3 separate regions of the Homo sapiens genome follow, and regions 1 and 3 are each linked to region 2. The links come from fine-mapping of genetic effects on gene expression. A gene starts in region 2. Each other region holds a variant in brackets. All regions are shown on one strand. Distances are between the middles of the regions.

Evidence for each region. PIP is the estimated chance that this variant, and not a neighbour inherited with it, causes the effect.
Region 1: its variant is the best candidate, but not a certain one, in a credible set for the expression of PLEKHO2 in fibroblasts (GENCORD, PIP 0.61).
Region 3: its variant is the best candidate, but not a certain one, in a credible set for the expression of PLEKHO2 in subcutaneous fat (GTEx, PIP 0.70).

Annotation. Positions count from the first base shown.
Region 1 is chr15:64,885,454-64,887,953 of GRCh38, reverse strand. No RefSeq gene overlaps it. Among named protein-coding and RNA genes, the nearest start is that of ANKDD1A, 25 kb to the left of the region's middle. The variant G/A (reference allele first, on the strand shown) is at 1,203.
Region 2 is chr15:64,840,800-64,843,639 of GRCh38, reverse strand. PLEKHO2 (pleckstrin homology domain containing O2) reads right to left here and starts at 1,725. Exons shown (of 6, transcript NM_025201.5): 1 at 1,612-1,725. The coding sequence starts at 1,623. It also overlaps a transcript of LOC124903508 not described here. RefSeq lists enhancers at 518-1,069, 1,102-1,625 and silencers at 1,433-1,872, 1,883-2,202.
Region 3 is chr15:64,869,769-64,872,585 of GRCh38, reverse strand. No RefSeq gene overlaps it. Among named protein-coding and RNA genes, the nearest start is that of PLEKHO2, 29 kb to the right of the region's middle. The variant G/A (reference allele first, on the strand shown) is at 1,474.

The sequences.
Region 1 (2,500 bases), 44 kb before region 2:
CGTGAACCACCACACCTGGCCTAATAAACATTTTTGAGGTGTGTCTTCCCATACCTCTGGGCTGAGTGCTCTTCACAGAGGATTTTATTTAATCTTCACAACAGCACTGGGGGGTGTGTTCTGTTATTATCCCCACTTAACAGATGATAAAGTGAGTCTCAAAGAAGTGAACCATCTTGCTTAAGGCCAGATGTAGGACATGGGGGAGCTAGGATTCAACCCCAGAAGTGTTTGATTCTGAAACTGTGCTATTTCTCCCATCCACGTGAAGGGGAGTTCACCATTGGAAAAGAAAGTCAGTCCTTCGACCTAGACTTGATCCCCAATTTACATAGAAATAGTTATTTTCTGGCCAGGCATGGTGGCTCATGCCTGTAATCCCAGCACTTTTGGAGGCGAGGTGGGTGGATCACGAGGTCAGGAGATTGAGACCATCCTGGCCAACATGGTGAAGCCAGATGTGGTGGTGCGTGCCTGTAGTCCCAGCTACTGGGGAGGCTGAGGCAGGGGAATCACTTGAACCCAGGAGGTAGAGGTTGCAGTGAGCTGAGATCACGCCACTGCACTCTAGCCTGGTGACAGAGCAAGACGCCATCTCAAAAAAAAAAAAAAAAAAGAAATAGTTATTTCTATTTACATGGCTTAGCCTACTGCGAAAAGCTATCCTTGAAGGATTATCAGTCACCTATACCTGAGTGTGAGGGAGTTTTTGATCCTTGTGACCTTGTACCACAAATATTTTCTCATTTACCATCTCATTTAGTGCCTGCCAACTAAGAGCAGATATCATTGTCCTCATTTTACAGCTGGGGAGACTGAAACTCAAGGAGGTATGGTGATGGGTTCTCAACCACACCTGTGGGCAGTCCCCTGGCCAGCATCCCAACCAACTCCGCTTTGGGTCAGCCACTCTGTCCTCAACACCAGCTTCTTTCTCATGGCCTTTCTCCCAGAGCACATCTCCATAGAAGGGAGGGGAGCCAGCAGGGGGACCCAAGGCCCCGGGAGAAGTGGCTGAAAGAGAGAAGAGAAACTATATGGACATTCGCCTGGAGTCCTGATTTCTTTTTTTTTTTTTTTTTTTTTTTGAGACGGAGTCTTGCTCTGTCACCCAGGCTGGAGTGCAGTGGTGCGATCTCGGCTCACTGCAAGCTCCGCCTCCTGGGTTCATGCCATTCTCCTGCCTCAGCCTCCCCAGTAGC[G/A]GGGACTACAGGTGCCCGCCACCACACCCGGCTAATTTTTTGTATTTTTTAGTAGAGATGGGGTTTCACTGTGTTAGCCAGGATGGTCTTGATCTCCTGACCTCGTGATCCGCCTGCCTCGGCCTCCCAAAGTGCTGGGATTACAGGCGTGAGCCACCGCGCCTGGCCTGGAGTCCTGATTTCAAACCATGAGTCCTTGTCGGGCTTCCAGATCTGCACACAGGAATGTAAGGGCCGCCCTTCATAAGAACAAGATAGCTGTCTTGTGTCCTCTCCCCCAGCCCTCTACCGCCAGCCTTTTTTCTGGCCAAAAGGCCCTTGGCCAGAATAGTCCTTTAACTATTCTTCTTACGACATTGTCTAATTATGATGATTAGACATAAGTATGAAGAAAAACATGCATTTTTTTTTTTTGAGACAAAGTCTCACTCTTGTCCCCCAGGCTAGAGTGCAATGGCACAATCTCAGCTCACTGCAACCTCCACCTCCAGGGTTCAAGCGATTCTCCTGTCTCAGCCTCCCCAGTAGCTGGGATTACAGGCACCTGCCACCATGCCCAGCTAATTTTTGTATTTTTAGTAGAGGCGGGGTTTCACCATGTTGGCCAGGCTGGTCTCAAACTCCTGACCTCGCGATCCACCCGCCTCGCCCTCCCAAAGTGCTGGGATTACAGTCGTGAGGCACCACGCCCGGCCAACATGCAGCTTTTAAGTTAAACAATGTATATGCCTTTTCTGGGGGAAGACTTTTCAACTGAGGAGCTGTGGGTTGCTCACTGTCCAGGGATGTCACAGAGTTGAATTTTATGCAATTAAGTGAAATAATCAGATCAGCACTCAACTTTCTGATGTGACTGGAAAATTGTCTTTAAAAAATCAAAATCTTTTTTTTTTTTTTTTTTTTTTGAGACAGAGCCTTGCTCTGTCACACCCAGGCTGGAGTCCAGTGGCGCAATCTTGGCTCACTGCAACCTCCACCTCCCCTGTTCAAGCAATTCTCCTGCCTCAGCCTCCCGAGTAGCCGGGACTACAGGCGCATGCACCACAATGCTCGGCTAATTTTTGTATTTTTAGTAGAAATGGGGTTTCACAATGTTGGCCAGGCTGGTCTCGAACTCCCGACCTCAGGTGATCCACCCGCCTCAGCCTCCCAAAGTGCTGGGATTACAGGCACGAGCCACTGTGCCCGGCTTTTTTTTGTTATTTTTTTGTTTTTGAGGCAGGGTCTCATGTCACCCAGCAGACTGGAGTGCAGTGGCACAATCATGGCCCACTGCAGCCTCAACCTCCTGGGCTCAA
Region 2 (2,840 bases):
CACTGCACTCCAGCCTGGGCAACAAGAGCGAAACTCCGTCTCAAAAAAAAAAAAAAAGAAAAGAAAGTGACAATGTGAGAGATTCAGGACCAAGGGTGTACAGAGCTGAGCCGGGCCCAGGAGGTGTCCGGAGAACTTCCCTTAATCAGGGGCCAGCGCAGATCAGGAGATGGAGTAATCCTGACCCACATCCTCTGGGAGCAGGGGAGGGGCCCTGGCCAGAGAGCCCAGCCCTTGCAGCAGGGGCCTGGGGCAGGCAGATGGCAGCCCCACCTAACAGCCAGAAAGAAACCGCAGCAAATCACAGAGGCCTGACTTTGCCCCCTACCTTCACCCACTGAGAGAACCGGCCACTGTCAGGCCAGGAGTATGAGGAGGACAGGCACTATATTTTGTAGAAGAGGAAATGAAGGCTGAGAGGGGAAGTGACTTATCTACCATCCCACAGAAAGGCAGGGCCTGGCCTAGAGGGAGCCCTGACGGACCACTAGCTGCTCCTATCCATGGCCCTGGAAAAGTGGGAGGTGGGCACTGAAGGGACACAGGCAGTCCGGTCCACTCAGGGCTTCCCAGCTGGCCAGGGTTCCCCCAAGGCAGAGAACTTCATCTTTCCTCCCCATCCAAGGAGGCAAAGACATGCCCCTTCCCTTGGGCTGAGAGGGGCTGAAGCTGGGACCCCCTCAGGGGATAAGAAACAAATTCACCTTCCTCTAGACCCAACAGGCCCCTCATTTTAACTTAATCATTCCACAGGCATATATTAAGTGCTTGCTGCGTGCTGGACCCTCGGATAAAGCGGCTGCTGGCAGAACTGAGTTTGCAAGTAAAGGGCAGGGGCAGGGGCAAGACCCAATCCCAGGCCAAGAGTGTTTTGAGTGGTTAGAAGGAGGCTCCAGGGACACAGTTGGTCCAGCCCTCGGGTGGGGAAGGCAGGGACTAAGATCAGACCCTAGGTGGGCCGGACTCCCGATTCCTTCCCTACAGCTAGCTGCTCAGATGGATGTGGAGCGGGGAGAGAGTGGGGGAAAAGATACAGAGACTTATACAAGGGAGAAAAAAGCAACTTCTCCAATCCTCCTGCCACCAAAGCATGGTCACATCCTTGAGACAGGAACCCCCCAACACACACATACACACACACACAGAGTCAGGATCCGATCCTTGAGACAGGAACCCCCCAACACACACATACACACACACACACAGTCAGGATCCGACACACACACACACACACACACACACACACACAGAGAGAGAGAGAGAGTCAGGATCCGACCACGGTAATCGGGGTTCGAGCCCAGTCACCCAGGCCACTTTCAGCAAGTCATCAATCTCGCTGGAGTCTCAGTCTCCTGGTCAATCCAATGGGAACGGTAACAACCACGACGCCCCACAACTGGTGAGAAAGTCAGCGAGAATGAAGGAGGACGCGGTCTGCGAAGTCCCCGATATGGATCCAGCCCCTCGCCCCTGCCCCATTTGCCCAGGCTCTTCCTGAGGTGAGACTGGCGGGAGTGGGGCGGGCAGGAACGAGGGCCTGAGCCCAGGACCGCAATCCCCGTGAGGGGCTCGAGGACCCCAGCCCAACGCCCCGCCGGGCCCCGCCCTCACCTCCTCCTCCATGGCGAGTCCGCCGAGGTCCCGCCGCTCCGCCACTCGCTTCCAGCGCCGCGCGGGCTCTGCCACCGCGTCTACGCCCGGCCAGGCGGCGACTCTCCGCGTTCTGTCCCGCCGGCTGCCGGGGGCCCAAGAAACTTCGGGGGGGCGGGGCCGGGGGCGGGGTGAGGCTTCCGGGGGCCGGGGCGGGGCCGGGGAGGGGGCGGTGGGGCCGGGGGCCCGGCCCAGGGCGGGAAATGGGTGGGGAGGGGCGGGGCCTGGGTTGGAGACTGGACGGAGGAGCCGGGCGGAGATGCAACTGGAGGAAGAGGGCGGGACGGGGCGGAGAAGGTTTCCCGCATCGGCGGAGGGAGAGGGACTAGGAGGGGGCTGCGGCGGGGGAGGAGAGGGGGCTTCCGGCCCAGAGACTGAGGCGAGGGTGGCGGGAGCGGCGCGCAGGCAGGGCTGGGGTGGGGCGCACACAGTGAGCGCTGGGGGCGCTGGCGGTGGAGCCTTTGAGGTCTCCCGAACCAGTGGGCTGGGGTTGCGAGACCGAGCCGAGCTGCCCTGGGCGGCCAGAGATGTGGGCACACAGAGGCTCCTCCTCTTTCCTCCCCGACGCCGGGCAGTGGGCGGTGGCCTGGTCTTCTCCCTGGAACCTCTGGGCGGGGCCGGGCCTGGAGCTTGGGTCTCTGTCCGGAGGGTGGTGTCACAGGAAGAGCTGGAGCTGAGAGTCGGGACTCCGGGGTCCCTTTAGGGGGCGGCCCGCCCCTGGCTCTCAGGGGTCTCCAAGCGCAGTGTTCTCCTGCTCTCCTTGGGCATCGCTCAATCCCTCCCGTATCTGAGGGTCGACCATCCCCCCGATCCCGCGGTGAGCTTGCAGCCCTGACAGCCTTACTGGAGAGTGGGAGTGTGGGGACCAGCAGAGAGTAATGATTTTAGTTATACCATGCGCCCTCATTTTACATTGGAGAAACTGAGGCCCAGAGAGAGAAAGTAACTGGCTGCATCGCAGCCTGCAGCACCGCTCCCCTCTCACACACACACGCATACTCCCCCTTAGCTCTCCTGGTCAACCCCGTCCCATGCCAAGGAAGGGAAAATTAAGTGCATGTGAGATCAATGGTGACCTTCTTCGGCTCTGGCTGCCATAGCAGCGGCTGTGCCAGCGACCAAGCTCCCCTTTCACGGCCTTCTGCCAGCCCTCAGGCTCCCAGGCTACTTCCAGCCCTGTACGGAAAAGG
Region 3 (2,817 bases), 29 kb before region 2:
CCAAAGTGCTGGGATTATAGGTGTGAGCCACTGCACCTGGCTACCCCTGGGGTTTGAATCCAGGTGTGTCTGCCTCCAAACCTGAAGTCATGTTTTCTCTACTTACATCCTGCTGTTTCCTCTAAGAATTTTGTTAAATTATGTCAACAGGGAGGAATTTCCATCATCACCTCTCCACCATCCATGTTCCATCACAGAGCCTCCTTGGTCACAGAAACCTCTGTGGAGTGAGTTTGTCTTTTCTGACACCCCTTTTGTCTGGGACATGAGGGTAGGGGTGGGGAGGCAGGAAGACAAGACAGGGAGAAGGGAACAAAACACAGTGACTCCCGAGACAGGATGCCGCCAGGGCCTAGGCAGGGGTAGAGGAAGGGGCAATCTGGTTGCCCCTCCCCCTGTCCTGGGTCCTGTCTGATGATAGCCACCTTGTGATTTGTGAAACCCTCTACTGGGCTGGACACGGTGGCTCACGCATGTAATCCCAAGCACTTTGGTAGGCCAAGGCGGGCAGATCACTCATGGTCAGAAGTTCGAGACCAGCCTGGCCAACATGGTGAAACTCCATCTCTACTAAAAATACAAAAATTAGCCAGGCGTGGTAGCGCACGCCTGTAGTCCCAGCTCTCAGGAGGCTGAGGCAGGAGAATTGCTTGAACCCAGGAGGCGGAGGTTGCCATGAGCTGAGATCACACCACTGCACTCCAGCCTGGATGACAGACCGAGACTCCGTCTTAATTAAAAAATATGTACATATCCTAGCCGGGCTCCATGGCTCACGCCTATAATCCCAGCACTTTGGGATGCCAGTGTGGGTGGATCACCTGAGATCAGTAGTTCGAGACCAACCTGGCCAACATAGTGAAACCCCGTCTCTACAAAAAATACAAAAATCAGCCAGGTGTGATGGCAGGCAACTGTAATCCCAGCTACTCGGGAGGCTGAGGCGGAAGAATCGCTTGAACCCAGGAGGCGGAGGTTGCAGTGAGCCAAGATCACACCACTGCACTCCAGCCTGGGCGACAGAGACTCAGTCTCAAAAAAAAAGGCCAGGTGCGGTGGCTCACGCCTGTAATCCCAGCACTTTGGGAGGCTGAGGCGGGCGGATCATGAGGACAGGAAACCGAGACCATCCTGGCTAACATGGTGAAACTCCGTCTCTACTAAAAAAAAAAATTATATATATATATATATATATATTAGCTGGGTGTGGTGGCGCGCGCCTGTAGTCCCAGCTACTTGGGAGGCTGAGGCAGGAGAATGGCATGAACCCAGGAGGCGGAGGTTGCAGTGAGCCAAGATAGCGCCACTGCACTCCAGCCTGGGCGACAGAGCCAGACTCCATCTCAAAAAAAAAAAAAAAAAAATCCTGCACTGTAACAACCCACAGGACTTCAAGTCACAGAGATATGGCAGCCTGTGTTCAAAAGGAGGGCTACCCTTCTCTGCACAGGCCTCCAGCCCCAAGACCAGAGG[G/A]AAACGCACTTCTTCTTCTTTTTTTTTTTCTTGAGATGGAGTCTTGCTCTGTCGCCAGGCTGGAGTGCAGTGGCGTAATCTCGGCTCACTGCAACCTCCGCCTTCTGATTTCAAGCGATTCTCCTACCTCAGCCTCCCCAGTAGCTGGGACTACAGGCACATGCCACCATGCCCAGCTAATTTTTGTATTTTTAGTAGAGATGGGGTTTCACCGTGTTGGCCAGGATGGTCTCGATCTCTTGACCTTGTGCTCTGCCCACCTTGACCTCCCAAAGTGCTGGGATTACAGGCGTGAGCCACCGCGCCTGGCCAGAAATGTGCTTCTTACCACATCCTTCCCCATGGCTGGCCAACACCATCCCAGCAGCCACTCTCTTCAAAGTGGCCTTACAGAGGGGACTCTGCCATCAAAAAGACTCCTCTATGATGAAGGGGCCTGGGAAGATGGAGTGATTCACCTGAGGTCCCTCAGCTTCTGCGGGCCACTCACTCGGTATAGCTGTCACGCGCCAGGGCAGTGGCAGGGGAATTCAGGAGCGACATGAGGGTCATTGCCACAATTGATAGGCCCCGGTTCAGGTGTTTCCTGTTGTGTTGGCCCCGGGGTCTGTCCATGGTTCTCACAGAGGAGGAGGAAGGGAGCTGGGCTTTGGTGAGCACAGTCGTGCTTTCCCACATGGGGGATGGCGGGTGGGGAGAGGGTGTGGCTGTAATCCCCTTTTGTGGGTGAGGAAACTGAGGTCTCCTGAAACTGAGACACACCCAAGGTCCTTGGGTGAGATTTGGACCTTGGCAGCCTGGTTTGGAGCTGTCCACTGGCCTAAGGGCTTCCCAACAGTGTTCAGGGAAGCCCTGGAATTCTGCTGCATTTTGTTTGTGTCAGGAGGTCAGGAGCCAAAGATAGGACCCAGGCTCACCCTTAACAAGGACCAGGCTCTGAGGGTAAAATAATGGCTGGAATCATCATTTTAGAACCATTGTAGGAAACACCTGTTCAGCAAGAATCATCAATGGATACTAAATCTGGGGAAATTTGTGGTGAGGTGCAACATATTTAGATGATCTTGTCTCCCAGATTATTAGTAAGAGGAAAAATGCAAAAACATTAACAGTAGAAAAATCAGACACCTGGCCCCAGTAATCAAAATGAACATCACCCATGAGGGCCAGATGCAGGTAGTCCATCTCCAGAGTAATATCCTGAGAAGGACCCAATTGCCTGTGCAGTTTCCAGCTGAGAATCCATAACCTCAATTAACTATCACAACTAAGCAGGTGGAAACCTCAGACAAACCCCAAAAGAGGAATCAGAAAGGGGAGGACTGTATTCTTCAAAAATGTCAA